2 separate regions of the Homo sapiens genome follow, and region 2 is linked to region 1. The links come from fine-mapping of genetic effects on gene expression. Tissue or cell type: thyroid. Region 1 holds a variant in brackets; the other region holds the start of a gene. All regions are shown on one strand. Distances are from middle to middle.

Region 1 (8,355 bases):
GCTTAGTAATTTTTTCTGCCAGATACCCTAAATCATCTCCCTTAAGTTCAAAGTTCCATAAATCTCTAAAATGGGGGAAAATGTTGCCAGTCTCTTTGCTAAAACATAGCAAAAGTCACTTTTACTTCAGTTCCCAACAAATTCCTCATCTTCATCTGAGACCACCTCAGCCTGGATTTAATGGTCCATTATCAGCATTTTGGTCAAAGCCATTCAACAAATCTCTAGGAAGTTCCAACTTTCCCACATTTTCCTGTCTTCTTTGAGCCCTCCAAACTGTTCCAACCTCTGCCCGTTACCCAGTTCCAAAGTCACTTCCACATTTTCATGTATTATTACAGCAGTGCCCCACTCCCAGTACCAATTTACTGTATTAGTTCGTTTTCACACTGTTGATAAAGACATATCCAAGACTGGGTAATTCATAAAGAAAAAGAGGTTTAATGGACTCACAGTTCCACATGGCTGGGGAGGCCTCACAATCATGGTGGAAGGTAAAAGGCATGTCTTACATGGTGGCAGGCAAGACAGAATGAGAGCCAAGCGAAAGGGGAAACCCATTATAAAAACGTCATATCTCATGAGACTTATTCACTACCACAAGAACAGTATGCTGGAAACTGCCCTCATGATTCAATTATCTCCCACCAGGTCCCTCTCACAACACATGGGAATTATGGGAGCTACAATTCAAGATGAGATTTGGGTGGGGCACAGCCAAACCACATCAGTCTTTATGGCAGAAGAGGGGAAGAGAAGCTTTCCATTGTGAACACTTCCACACTTGATTATTTCCTTCTTCTTTGGCACATTCCTCATTAATTTCCACCAGGAGGAGGCATGCAGCCCAGTTCCCCTAGTCTCTCTTCCTAAATCCCCCATCTTTTTTTTTCGTTTTTATTATTGAGTTGTGAGAGCTTTTAAAATATTCTGGATGCCAGTCCTTTATCAAATATATGGTATGTGAATATTTTCTCCCAAGCTATGGCTTTTTATTCTCTTAACACTTTCTTTTGAAAGAGAGACATTCTTAATTCTGCTCAAGTCCATTTACTCAATTTCATCTTTTATAGGGTATGTTTTCAGTGGCGTGTCAAAGAAGTCCTGGCCTAATCCAAATTTATACAGTATTTTTTTTTACTGTTTTACTCTAGAAGTTCTATCATTTTAGCTCTTGCATTTATAACTACAATCCATTTTGAGTTAATTTTTATGTATAGTATGATATGGTTTGAAGTTCTTTCTTGTGAATGCATATGTGTGTGTATACTATAAAGTTGTTCCAGCACCATTTGTTGAAAAGTCTATATTTTATCCACACAATTGTCTTTTGCACCTTTGAAGAAAATAATTGATCATATATATGAGTCTATTCTGGACTCTCTATTCTTTTCCATCGCTCTATTTGTCTAGCTTTACTCCAATATCACAGTGTCTTGATTGCAGATTTATAAATCTTGAAATCAAATAGTGTAAGTGCTGCAACTTTACCCTACTTTGTCAAAGTTGTTTTAGTTATCTAGGTCTTTTGCATTTCCATATGAATTTTATAATCAGCTCATTATTTTACACACACACACACACACACACACACACACACACTTGAATTTTTATTGGGGTTGCATTAAATATAGAATCACTTTCTATTATTTGGAAATAATAGGAATCTTAAAAATAGTGAGTCTTCCCATCACAAACAGTGTATCTCTCTCCATTTAGTACATCGTCTTTACCTTCCCTCAGCAATATTTTCTAAGACAGGTCTCTCGAGCTCTCTCATTGTTTATCGTTCTCTTCTCTGGTACTCTACCCTGCAAATTCTAGGGGGGATGGCCTCTCCAGACTCCCAAGTCCGTTTCCTCAACTGAGGGAGCCCACTAGGCTCTGCCTGGGTTTTCACCTGTCTGTACTGTGTCTCTGAAACTTTCTCCAGGTGGTGACATGGGCAGTTTTAGTTCTTGCCTCATTTGTTTCCTGTCACTCAAGGATCACATATCTTCATTACCTGATGTCCAATCATTGTTTCATATATTTTGTCCAGATTTTTAGTTGTTTAAAATGTGAGAGTAAATTCATTTCCTGCCTCTCTGTCATTGTCAGAAGTGATTGATTTTATGTGAGAATTGAAGAAAGAGAGTGGTCAAAGATGGATGATTTTCTGGTTTTCAGCATGAGCAAACTCCAGATGTTGGTATTTACTGAGATGGGAAATATTAGGTGAAGAATAGGCTGTATTCTGGTATAAGTAAGATCATGTGTTCCATTTTTAACATATTCAGTTTGTGCTACCTGTGAGACATTCAAGTATAAAAAAATCAAAAAACAGTTGTATAGACTAGGCTGGAGCTCAGAAGCAGGGCCTGAGTTGGAAATATGAATTAACAAATTGTCAACATATCCTGTTTATGGTATTTGAAAAATAGATGTTGACAAAGGTCTTTACTAGCAGAATGTAGAGTGATAAAAGAGGAGGACAGAGGTCCAGTTTTTGAAGAATACTAATGTTTAGACTTCAGATGGAAAAGAAGACCTTAATCTGAGCAGAGAGAGCCAAAGAGGTAAAAGGAAAACTGGTTGATTGTATCATGGAAGTCACTAGAAGAATGTTTCAAGGAACCAAGAGTGGTCAGAGTCACTCTGACTGAGAGAGTGACAAAGCTACATTGAAGTTGATGAAGAAAGGACTGAAAAGAACCCACTGGATTATGTGACGGCAAAGTCATTGGTGGCTTTAGTAAGGGAACTTTCCATAGAGCAGTAAGGACCAAAGCCAGAACAGAGTAGACTGGAAAGCAAATGACAGGAACAGGAGGCAGCATGTTTAAATAGCTCCGTGGCACATTTGGCTGCAAAAGGGAAGAGGAGGACTGAAATTGGGAAGGAATTTTTCAAAATGGGAGAAAACAGATTATTTAAATACTGACAGCTAAGAGCCAGTAGTGGGGAAGCCTGGAGATGCAAGAAAGAGAGGATGAGCAGCAGAGGGGGTTCCTGTGGCTGAGACCCCATCGGATGGCACGAATGGATGGGACCCAGAACAGAGTTGGCGGATTTGCTTTTGATAAAACTCTTCTTCCCATGTTGCAGTGGGAGGGAGAGGCCAATGCAAGTGCAAATACATTTATGAATCCAAAGGTAAGAAGTCAAGTGTAGCCCTTCTGATGTCTCTGTCTTCTCTGGGAGGGAAGAAACAGGGCTGTGTACTGAGCATATGGAAGAGCCTCTGCCTTCAGGGAGCTTGTGGTCTTTTGGCGTGTACTGCTCTGATGATTTCTTTTATAGTAACTACAAAATCAGTCTCACTTCAACTTGCGTCCCTTTTAAATTTTAAAATGTTTTACTTTTCAAAAATAATTTGCTGGATTTTCCTTGATTATGTAATCTGTCTGCTCAATACAGAAAACTTGAATGAAAACAGAAGAGTAGATAATTCTGATACAAAGTCACCTATAGTCCCTCTGCCCTAAAGTAACCACTGTTAAAGTTTGATATATCTTTCCTGTATAATCTCTGTCCATGGTTCTTCACTTGCAATTTTTATATGGTTGTGACACTATTTTGCCTGCTTCTTTGCTGTAATTTGTTTAAGTAAGGAAACTAAACACAAAGTTTTGTCTCAAAGGACCATTTCTGCAGGTGGGTGGGGCCCCTGTTCCTGAACAGGGCTTCATTCCCTTTGTCCATGTTTGCTGAGATCAGGGCTTCCCTGCTAGCCAGGCATCCCTGAACAAGCCAAAATGCAGAGCACAGCCTTCAAAGGAAGCTTGTCTGTCTTCTCTCTTTGGAGGCTGAGGGGTCACAGTCAGCGTACCCAGAAGAGAAGCTGGGACTTATCAATTAACCAATACTGCTTTCAAACCGTTTTCATCAAAATATTTTTTTTTTTTGAGATGAAGTCTCACGCTTGTCCCCCAGGCTGGAGTGCGATGGCACGATCTCAGCTCACTGCAACCTCTGCCTCCCAGGTTCAAGCGACTCTCTTGCCTCAGCCTCCCAAGTAGCTGGGATTATGGGCAACTGCCACTGTACCCGGCTAATTTTTTTTGTATTTTTAGTGGAGACGGGGTTCTACCATGTTGGCCAGGCTGGTCTCGAACTCCTGACCTCAGGCGATCCACCCACCTCAGCCTCCCAAAGTGCTGGGATTAGAGATGTGAGCCACTGCGCCCAGCCGAACTATTTCCATCAAAGCATGGGGAAGTTTCATATGCAGCTTCAGGGATCTTGGGGCTGGCAGCTGTCAAATAAGCATGCTGTGGGAACTGGGGAGTCAGGAAGATTGTGGATATGTGCTTCTACTTGTGCCTAGAGGAAAAGGTTTCCTCTTGTTTCACAACAGCCTTGGCCAGCAGCTTTTTGAGGGAGTGGGAAGCAGGACAAGGAATTTTGGTGTCTGCCAGATTGAGACA[G/C]GGATCAAGAACTGAGTGAGGACAGAGCGTGAAAGAGTGGTCTCAGGCCTCCTGAAGCATTTGTTCTTTCAACAGACAGGCTCCGTGCTAGCACTAGAATGCCCATGGAAACTGAAGGAGGAAACCACAGGCTGGCAGAAGGCTAAGTCTGTGGCATCAGAGCAGGAAGCAATTCCGTGAAACAGCGACTCTGCTCTAGCTACATTTATTTCCCTCTGTTCCTGGAGGAGTGAGGGGAAGGGGGAGACATCCTTTTCTAACAAGGGACTTTCCTGAATACTTGGATTTTATATTAATTCATGCTTTCAGAATTTAAAGGAACTCTTTCTGCACAGAGGGAGTCCCCCATCAGGTCATGCAATGTTTAACAATTATGGTTTGGCCACATTCTCCTAGAAAAACTACAGGACCTCCCCCTTCAAAGACATATACAACTCCAGGAAGCCACCTGAAAATCTTGTGTTGGTCCCTGTACCAACTCTACCCCCCTCCTCAGTCTCTATTAATCTGTTCCCAAAAAGAAATGTCACCAGATGGCCCTGCAAATGTCACCTGGCCATCAGCATGGCTTCACTCAAAACAGGGAGGCATTAGAGAATCTAATCCATCGTTCATTTCCATCATTTCGGGTCAGTTTGCATCCTTTACTGGGCATATAGTGCTTTCTTAACACACTGGGTTGGACAGTAAGATCTGTAATCCTGCTGATATTAAAGAATATTGCTTCACGTTTAATGGAGGAAGGTCCCAGTGACTCACAGATACTGAACATTCTGTAAGAACTCCTCTCTTGTTAGCATTTAATACCAGATTTTACTGCCCTCAGCTTCATGAACTGAGCACTCCCTCAGCATTCTCAATGCCTCAGGCTATCTTTAGCATTTAATCCCTTCCAGGTATCAGAGCCATCAGACCTCCTTTTTTTTTTTTTTTTTTTTTTTTTTTTTGTATTTTCAAAGTGCGGATGGGTGGATTTTAGGAATTGAGCTGATCCCTTTTTAAAATGGGTTTTTCTTTTACTGTCTCTTAGATTTCATATCCAGTCATGGGCATCAGACCCGTATCCTGTCTCTGCTCTGTGTATTTCTCCATTCTAGCAGTTACAGAAATAGCTGAGGGAGGTGTGACTGGTTCTGGAGAAAGAAAAGAAAGCTGAACTCCTCACGCTGAGGAGGTTGCAGGGCCACAGCTAGGCGGGCTGGGGGTGGGAAGATGGCTGTACTGCTGGGCTGTCAGGCAGAGGGGCCACACATCCAGATGTGCTTTTGAGCTCCCCGCAGCTTTTAGGGAGTGGCTTCCAAATGAGTCATAAAACTCAGAGGTAGGTTTGGAATAGGAGATTTCAAGTGGGCTCCTGCTCACTGTCAGAGCCACTTACTCTCTTTACTGGGGATTAAAGAACTCCACGAGCATTGCCGGGGACTGGGGGGAGGGGAAATTGTTTAATGGATACAGAGTGTCTAGTTGGGGTGATGCCAGCATTCTGGAATAGACAGTAGAGATGGTTGCACAACACTGTGAATGTACTTAATAGCCACTGAACTGTATACTTACACATGGTTAAAATGATAAATTTTATGATGTACATTTTACCACAATAAAAAATATACAAACACACACACACACACACACACACACCATGAAAACTCTCTACCAGAGTGCAAATAAGACTTGGAGACAACAGAGAAAGGCGCAGGCCCAAATGCACAGAGTTGCCCCTGCCTCCAGCCAGTTGAGGTGGGCTGCGGGCAGGGGTCATGTTCCTACAGGGGCCACCTACTCATCTTAGCAGAGACTCCATACAGCAAGGGCTGGGTTTCCCTCAGCTTCCCAGAGCCCAGGCCTATCACCCTACCAACGTCTGTCCCAACAAATCCATGCACATTGCCTATATGCCAGACCCCAGTTCTAGTGTGTTTTCCACTTAATTTTCACAGAAGTGAAATAGCTATTATGCCCATATGACAGAATAGGAAAATGAGGTATAGAAGGGTTCATTACTCGCCTAAGGCCACACAAGTGATAAAGGTGAGATAGCATTTAAATGTAAGTCTATTTGAAGCCTGTGTTCCAAAACTCAGTTTTCCCGATTATACTACACTTCAAAATATCCATCTTGGTAAAAAAATAGGTCCTGAACAATGCTTCCATCAACTCTAGAATAAAAATGAGTTTGTATCATGATTTGAATCCAGTACACTTCAGAGACACTGGCATTCTGCTGCTTTCATCACACTCCACCCTGTGAGTCACTCATGCCAGGGGGGGACCCACCGAGGATGCCTCATGGGTCAATATAGTTTTTGCTGAATAGATGATACATCAGAGGCTGAATAAGGATCAGGCTGGCCGGACAGATTTCCAGAGAACTAATCAATAAAGGGTACTAAAACATTGAGGTGGAGGAACCTATTAATCTGTATAACTTTCTAGAAGAACATTACATATGGTTGGAAATAATACCTGAAGAAGTGATGACATTCCCAAATAGCTCAAGTTGCAGTAGATGCTCACTAATATGTCTTCTGAAGGTGTAGGTCCAGGCAAATGCAGGCTTCAGGCTTGAGCTATTTGGGTGGTAAAGGAAAGACTAGCACTGTCTCCAACAACCCTCTTTGTCTACCCATCAGAGCAGCCAACTTCTCATAAACACTGAACAGATATTTAAATAACATCAGTTTGAAGAATGGCCAAAGTCACCTCCTACCTGAGCTGCCTACGTGCATTGATCTGTCCTGCAGGCCACAAGTTTTTATCCCCTCTTTCCTATGTCTCAGCCTACTTCTGCCTCATAGATACACACCTCAAAATGCAGCCCTGGGGCCTGGGCTCACTTTCCTTCATCTTCCATATCTCAAGGCTTATGTTAGAGCTCATTCTCTTTTCTTTCAGGTCCAATCTCTTCTCCTCTCAATGCCCACTGCCACAGCTCCTTCTTTGGTGACTGGCATTGCTATTGCCACCACCACCAACTTTCAACCTGAGAGCATGATTTTTCCAGAAGACGTGATGTAGAAAGAGAGAGAAAATAAATGCTACTTGCATTTTGACACTATCTAAAAGCAAACAGATAAATGTTTAGCTTTAAAAACATTTCTAAATGTGTAAAACAATTATTTATAGTGGATTCTTGACCCTGATCCCATTGCTCACTCTCAACCTATGTGTGAGGGATGGTCACTTATGGAGTGAGATTAGGCGTGAAGTAAGTATCAGGGTAACAAAACCAGTGATTTTTTAAATGATGTCATGATTTTGTCTTAAAAAAAGTCAAGATCAAAGCGGCCAGCTAATAAAGTCCTGGTCCTACATAAATAACTAGGGTTTTAAAAAATTATCTTTAATGATTTTTTTAACCTCCTTGAAAAAGATGAAGTGGTATATATTGCCTGTTTCTTAATGGTTAAGTATCATGAACTTTGGTGGGGAAAGAAACTGAAAGCCCAGTAATTCCCTCGGTCTTTATATAAGAAGAGTATTATCTGAATGTCGTTTGGGGCAGTGGTTATATTTTTAAGCATCTGTCATTCATGCTAATTGACCAGGGATGTGGCTAGCCAGGGTCAAGCTCCCACAGTCAGTGCAAGAGGGCCCTGAGGCTTTGGGCAGCCTGTCCGATGGCAGCCACCTAATGTAGGATGCAGTGGCAGTGCTGGCCCACTTTTGAGAGCAGCCGCTGAGTTACGGACTCCTTGTGTGGGAGCTGTATGTCGGACTGGAGCTCCAGACTGCTCATTCCCTGCCCAGAGCCTTACCCTGTCATCATTGATTTTATGGGGAAAGAAAGCATCTCCTTTTGTAAACACCACACCAGCATCTTCAATAAGATGATGCAATGGGATTAATGATGCACTTTCCAGCATCCTCATCGATTCTGAAGATGGAAGTAGAAACTTGAGATGAGACTAAGCCATGTTTTGTCAACATTTTGCTTCTCTAGCAAGCA
Region 2 (6,930 bases), 96 kb before region 1:
GTCTATCCATGTCCTTATCCCACTTTTTGATGGGATTGTTTGTTTTTTTCGTGTTGATTTGTTTGAGTTCGTTGTAGATTCTGGATATTAGTCCTTTGTCAGATGTATAGATTGTGAAGATTTTTCTCCCACTCTGTGAGTTGTCTGTTTACTCTGCTGTTTTTTTTTTCCTGTGCAAAAGCTCTTTAGTTTAATTAAGTCCCAGAAATGTATCTATCTTTGTTTTTATTGCATTTGTTTTTGGGTTCTTGGTCACGAAATCCTTGCCTAAGCCAATGTCTAGAAGAGTTTTTACAATGTTATCTTCCAGAATTTTTATAGTTTCAGCTCTTAGATTTAAGTCCTTAATCCATCTTGAGTTGATTTTTGTATAAGGTGAGAGATGAGGATCCAGTTTCATTCTCCTACATGTGGCTAGCCAATTATTGCAGCACCATTTGTTGAAAAGGGTGTCCTTTCCAAATAAAATACTTAGGAATATACCTAAACAAGGAGGTGAAAGACCTCTACAAGGAAGACTGCAAAACACTGCTGAAAGAGATCAGAGATGACACAAACAAATGGAAACATGTCCCATGCTCACAGATGGATAGAATTAATATTGTGAAAATGACTATACTGCCAAAAGCAATCTACAAATTCAACACAATTCCCATCAAAATACCACCATCATTCTTCATAAAATTACAAAAAACAATTCTAAAATTCATATGGAACCAAAAAAGAGCCCACATAGCCAAAGCAAGACTAAGCAAAAAGAGCAAATCTGGAGGCATCACATTACCTGATTTCAAACTATACTATAAGACCATAGTCACCAAAACAGCATGGTAGTTGTATAAAAATAGGTATACAGACCAATGGAACAGAATAGAGAACCCAGAAATAAACCCAAATACTTACAGCCAGCTGGTTTGATGATTCTTATAAGGAAACTAATCCTATTGGATCAGGGCTCTACCTTTATGACCTCATTTACTCTTAATTAAGTCCTATCTCCAAATACAGTGACATCGGGAATTAGGGCTTCAACATAAGAATTTACAGTTCACTCTATAGCAGTATCTCACTTCCCTTCTGTATGATATTCTTTCTCCACATTGTTTCTCATTCTTCTGGACCCCTCTCCAGCAAGATATCCTGTAAAAGTTGCAAGATCTTTTCAAGTCTAGACTCAGCTCAGAATTTCACTTCTACACATTCTGTTGAATAAAGTGAGTCACAAGGCAGGCCCAAATTCAAGCAGAGGGGAACAGACTTGACTTCTTGATGGGAAGAGTGGTAAAATCACACTCCAAAAGGACACATGGAATTGGAGGGATAGCTATGGCTGTCTTTGGAAACAGTCTACCAATTTGTCCTTGAACAAATTGTTTAACCACCTGATTTTACTTTCTTTGCCTGTAAAATAGGAAATATAGCATCAACCACTTTGGGATGTTGTAAGTAATAGATTAAGAAAGTGTGTTTAGCACCTCGTACATTGTAGTAGAAACATAACAGAAACAGCAAAAACACATATTGGTTGAGCCCATACTATGTGGCAGCACTATTACAAGCACTTAAATATATTGCTTTATGTAATCTTTGTAACAGCCCAAAGATACACGTTATCTTTGAGATAAGATGAGAAACCCTAGGCACAAAAATGTTAACTTGCACAAGGTTGGTTGCATAGTAACTAGTCTGTCTAAATCTTGAATGTCTTACTGTCTACTTTATCCAAAGGACACTTTTTAGTTTTTTCTCTTTAAACTATATTTGAAAGTTTACAGTTGATGTTGCTCGCTCCTCTACCAAACACTCCTCCTCCCGTGATCCCTATGACTCCCCTCTGTACAATCTTTCCTCCTGTTCTCATTGCTACCTTCCAATCTCCTCTTTCATTTCTTCAACTCTTCTTTCTTGAAGGAACCATCCCATGTGGCAACTCAGTTTCTACCTTTCCAATGATGATTGCCAGTCTTCACTCTCTCCTAAACTCTAGGCTTGCATTTCTAAGTGTTATTAGGGTGTGAGCACATATGACCCAGGTAACGTTTTGAAACGTTTGTGCCTTTCACTTCTTTCTTATTCCATTGGTTGCAATCTTGTCACTTAATACTTGAAATGTTTTTCAAATTTGGATGTTTCTAGCAATCAGCTAATGCCTTTGGCCTGGTTTAGGCCTTCATCATCTCTTGCCTGGTTTATCAAAGTCATTTTTTAACTGAACTTGTTGCTTTCAGTTCCTCTCTGACATGATGGCATTAGGGTAATATTTCCATGTGCTTCAACACACATACCTTCTCACCATTACTATATGTCCCCCCCGCCACCCCCCCCCAGCATCACACTATCTCTGGTGTCACCTTCTCTGTTCATGGCCTTTTTCTTCTTCTCTAGGGGTTCCCCCCTTTGAAGAAACAGCATCTGCTCAACCTCCCCTACAGGCTCCCTTAAAGCTGGTTTCTCCTCCCTCTGTTTGTCTCTTTGCAACTCTCTGGAGGCATCTTTACCTTTACAACTTTGCATTTTCTCTGCTATTCCCATGTAAGTTCCCTGAAACCCTAGTACCATTCACAGCAGGATTTCAAAGGTTGCCTGTTGCGTGAGCATTCTATAGGATCCCAAATTATCTTTCTGTGCAAATATGAATTGTTGTGATATGTCCGTAGAGACGGCACAACCTCATGGCTAAGAATGATAGTTACCAGTTCTAGAGATCCTACTCTAATTGCTCTAGAGTGGGGGCCTGAACACCAGTATTACAAAAAAGACAAAAGAAAAAGAAGGAAAAAAGAAAAAAGAAAGAGAGAAAATCAAAGCTACCTTCATCATGTATGAATTTGAGCAAGTAACACCTTTGTGAGTCCCCAGGCCCCAGTTTCTCATTGGTAAAATGAGGATAACAATTACACAGACCTTGTTGGGCTATGTACAGAATTAAATGAGATTATGTACCTAAAAGGCTTGTGGCACAGTGACACACACACACACACACACACACACACACACACCCAGAGTACTTCGTGGTTATTTCTAGGCTTTACTGCTTGAAAGGCTGAAAAGATGGGTGGATGAGAGGTGCCCTGAGGTTCCTTCCAACTCTCCAAGATTCTGTGATACTCCTCCTTGGGTGCTGAAGACACTTTGGCAATGTTTGGATTTCCAAACGGTTGCTTAGAAAACTAAGGGACCCACGAAGCCCAGGTAAGCCTCAGGGTCTTTCCCAGGAATCGTTTATTTATTTGATCTTAGTTCTGACCTAGAGCCTCCACCTTCTCCATCCAAATCACCACAGTGGTCGAAAAGGGCCTGTGCTTGGGAAATCCTTCCTTTGTTGGCGAATCTTGGACCCAAACCCTGCATTTGGGCATCTGACACCCATAGGCCCATGGTTCAAACCCAGGCGGCTCTTTCCAAGTTCGAAGCAGGGACTCGGTTCTGCGCATCTGGCGGGTGTGCCCAGATTGTAACCTTCGCACTAGGCATCCAAGAACGTGCTTTGGACACACTCGGCGGTGGGAGCGGGTGCTTGGTTTGCATCAGGGATGAGGGGTGGAGTAGCGAAAGCGCCCGGAGCGCGCACTCACTCACACTCCCCAAGCCAGGGCGCGGCCGCTCTGGGCGCGAGGTCCCAAGCCAAGTCTCGCGCTCGGCCAGGAGCCGGGGAGTACCCCAGGTCCCCGGTCTGGGGCCGCCGCTATCCTACCCTGCGGCGCGCACTCCTGACCTGGCCCCGCCCCCCGGCGGCCGCGAGTAGCGGGCGGAGCGCAAGCAGAGAGGCGCTCTGGGCTGTGCGGCACCGCCTCTCCTCGGTGTCTGGGGAGGGACGGAGGGACCGGGCGGGAGAGAGAGAAAGCCTGACCGACCGGCTGGCGAAGAGCTGCATGCAACCGGTGGGAGGCCGGGCCGGCTGGGTCTGGGGCTCGGGCTCAGGCTCGCACCGTTTCTCGGCAGGTCCCTGGCGGTGAGCGCGGACGGCCCGGAGGCGGCGGCTCTGAGCTGGCAGGCGGAGGGCTGTCTCCTGCGCCCGCCTGCCCGGCGCGGTCCGAGGATGCGGGGGGGCGATGCCCGGGGCCAGGGACGCGCTCTGTCACCAGGCGCTGCAGCTGCTGGCCGAGCTCTGTGCCCGTGGGGCCCTGGAGCACGACAGCTGCCAGGATTTCATTTACCACCTGCGGGACCGTGCCAGACCCCGGCTCCGCGACCCAGGTGAGTGCCGCCACCGCCGCCTGGAGGGACCTAAGGGCCCTGGGCTGGGACTTGGGGCCGCACCGGGGCCTGAGGCAGAACAGCGACGCGGACTGGGAGAGGGCGGGGGGCGGCCACCGAGCCAGGAGAGTGATCAAGAACCAGCGCACTGTGGCCTGATGCTGTAACCAGGCGGGGACCCGGGCGGTGGCTACTGCACGGAGGCCGACTCCGGGTCGGCTAGGGCAGGGTTGGAGGGACCACGCCCGCCACCTGCGCTCCCATCGCCAAGGCTCCTGGGGGCGGCTCCCTAGCTCCGAGCTACGCTCTCCACTTCCCGGGCTATCTGCACTCAGAGCGAGGGGAGGCCGCGGCGGCCTCGGAGCCGTGGGAAGGGGGACGAGGCCGAAGGAAACTCTGGGAAGTTGGGAGTTGGGGACGGCCCCGGGTTGGGGCCGAATCCCACCGGGTGCTGCTCATCCTTTCTCCCAAGCGTCTAGTTCCTTTCCTTGGTATGGGGTGAGAAGGGCGGGACGCGATCCGGCGTTGGGCCGGGGACAGGGTGCTTCTGGCCTTGGGCAGACGGGCCTGAACCCGTTCCCGGCGGGTCGCACGGCATGGAGGTGGCCTGGGCCTGGGCGCTAGGCTCGACCAGCGACTACCGCCGGCCACGATGGGGTTCGTAGACTCGTCGGTCCTGGCTTGTGCACCTGTAGTTACTCCTAGTGAAAGTTGCAAAGCTCTTAACTTTGGAAAGTTCATTTATTTTGGCATTTGACCAATTAAGGTTGGAGGAGGGAGTTTTAGTGGAGCCATTTGCTTTTCCTGAGGTCCCTGGGTCTCCCAGGTCGTCTCATCCGTTACTGGCTACTGGAAAATGCATTCCTTCCAATGTTTGCTTGAGATGTTTCTCACCTGGAGAAATAGTTTTCTCGAATATTCTCCCAACCTAAGTACTTACCAAAACAGCATATTGTGGTTGGATTGTTAAAAATGGGATGAGAAAATGGCCTTTCTCTTGATATTGCTATGTATAAATATTGGAAATGAGCTATTGCCTTGCAAATTATGATGTACGAATTGAAAACAATTTATTATATAAAAATCCATTTATCCAAAAGATAAATTAAAGAATTATTTGATTTATAAAGAGTGTCACACTGAGCCAGACTTAAATAGCATATCCTTGATATATTCAAGATGGTCGTGTGGGGTGAAGTCATCTGCTAAAATTTTAAAGTTTATATCAGATTTTCCCTACCAGAGGCTTTTTTTTCCTATTGAAAAAGAAAAAAATATTGTTTTCCATTGCCGGTGGTTATATTAACTAAGTTTATTGAATGATCATTGATATATTACTTCAAAGTGGATAATTGGGTAGAGAAATACTGATCCCAGTGGTTTCCAGGGAGGTTTAATGTCCAGCCTATGTGCATCTCATTGCTGGATGTGATGTGCTGAATAAACCACAGTCCCTTATCTCACAAGCTGGAGTCCCAGGAAGATGTCTTAAGTCGGGGAAGTTCGTCCTTAAGCAGCAGAAGCAAGACAATTATTTTGCATGCTTTGCCCAAAGCAAGTATTAGTATTGAAACATCTCACTTCCTTGCCTGTGACCAGACCACGAGTTCTCCTTGTTATCCCACATAAGCAGTTGTCTTTGGCTTTACAAGAGAAGATGGATGAGGCCTATCTCTGAATCACATCTTTTTGGCCAGTTTTCTGCTTCTACTCCTTTTAATCCGGGAGCTGGATCCTGTGTTCTCAGATTCTCTTCAGCCCCTACACCAGGCAACCCCTGAGAAAGAGTCACTAAGTAGGCTTCTTACAAGAGGAAATCTGATTCCTTGGCGGAGGAATAGCTAGAGATAGGAGTCGACCTTGCTGCTCTGAGTTCCTGATAGCAGTGCTCTGCTTTCTTAAACTAGGACACAAGGGTTTTGAAGTAGCCCCATGCCCCTGTGGCTCTTTGGTTTTTGTTGGAAAGTAGCCAGCTCATGAGGACAGGGGTGGGGGTTTTCGAGTGCAAGGTGAGAGGAAATGAGGCCAAAGATTACATCCAAAGTGCACCCTCTCCTTCAGGACACTTCTCCCTTCATTTCCAAATCTCCCTTCATTTCCCTCCTTCCTTGCCTTGCCGACATTAATTCTTACATCAGATGCATTTGTCTTCATCCCTCTGAAGCAAGAGTGTCTTTAATCTCGGAACCCTAAAAGCTGAGTAGTAGAAAAGCTGCACCACACAACGCCGTGTGAATAATGTCCCTGCTGTTGATAGTGTGAACCAGAACAACCATGCACAGCAGCCCTGAGACATGGGTTCCTAGAGAGAGTCATCTCGGTAAATGGATGACTTCTTTTTCTGGAAAGGAATCCACCTGAATGCCATGTCCCAGCTTTCTCTGTTATTGTCCATTCACGGCCACCCTGTGATAGCTAGGTTTTCTCAAGCTGAACTAAGGACTTTGGTTATAAAAGGAGAAAAAAGATATAATTTCCTGTGGACAGCAAAGTGACCCTGCATCTAGGAAATTTACTCATTTTTTCAGAGGTGTGGAAAGACTAGGGCACAGACCAGCGGGCCTGAGCCATCAGAAAGGTTCTTTTTTGTCCAGGTAGTTATAGTGCCCTGTTGGGGGAGTACCGCACCCAGATTTCCCTGACTTGGTGTTCACAGAGGACTTGATGCAATTGTGGTTTAAAAAAATAAGCCTAAGTCACAGTTGGAACTGAAGTGCCTCACCCAGTCTGTCA

Alleles and levels. Positions count from the first base shown, and alleles are read on the strand shown. Sizes are in standard deviations (SD) of each study's normalised expression.
As copies of C replace G in region 1, the expression in thyroid of the gene that starts at base 3,770 in region 2 goes up (moderate effect, 0.49 SD a copy in GTEx).

What was found. PIP is the estimated chance that this variant, and not a neighbour inherited with it, causes the effect.
Region 2: SYT9 starts here. The variant in region 1 is fine-mapped to the expression of SYT9 in thyroid (GTEx, PIP above 0.99).

What each region holds. Positions count from the first base shown.
Region 1 is chr11:7,343,362-7,351,716 of GRCh38, forward strand. The region is part of intron 3 of SYT9 (synaptotagmin 9); the gene reads left to right. Among named protein-coding and RNA genes, the nearest start is that of SYT9, 96 kb to the left of the region's middle. The variant G/C (reference allele first, on the strand shown) is at 4,410.
Region 2 is chr11:7,248,135-7,255,064 of GRCh38, forward strand. SYT9 (synaptotagmin 9) reads left to right here and starts at 3,770. Exons shown (of 7, transcript NM_175733.4): 1 at 3,770-4,197. The coding sequence starts at 4,053. RefSeq lists a silencer at 3,663-3,802.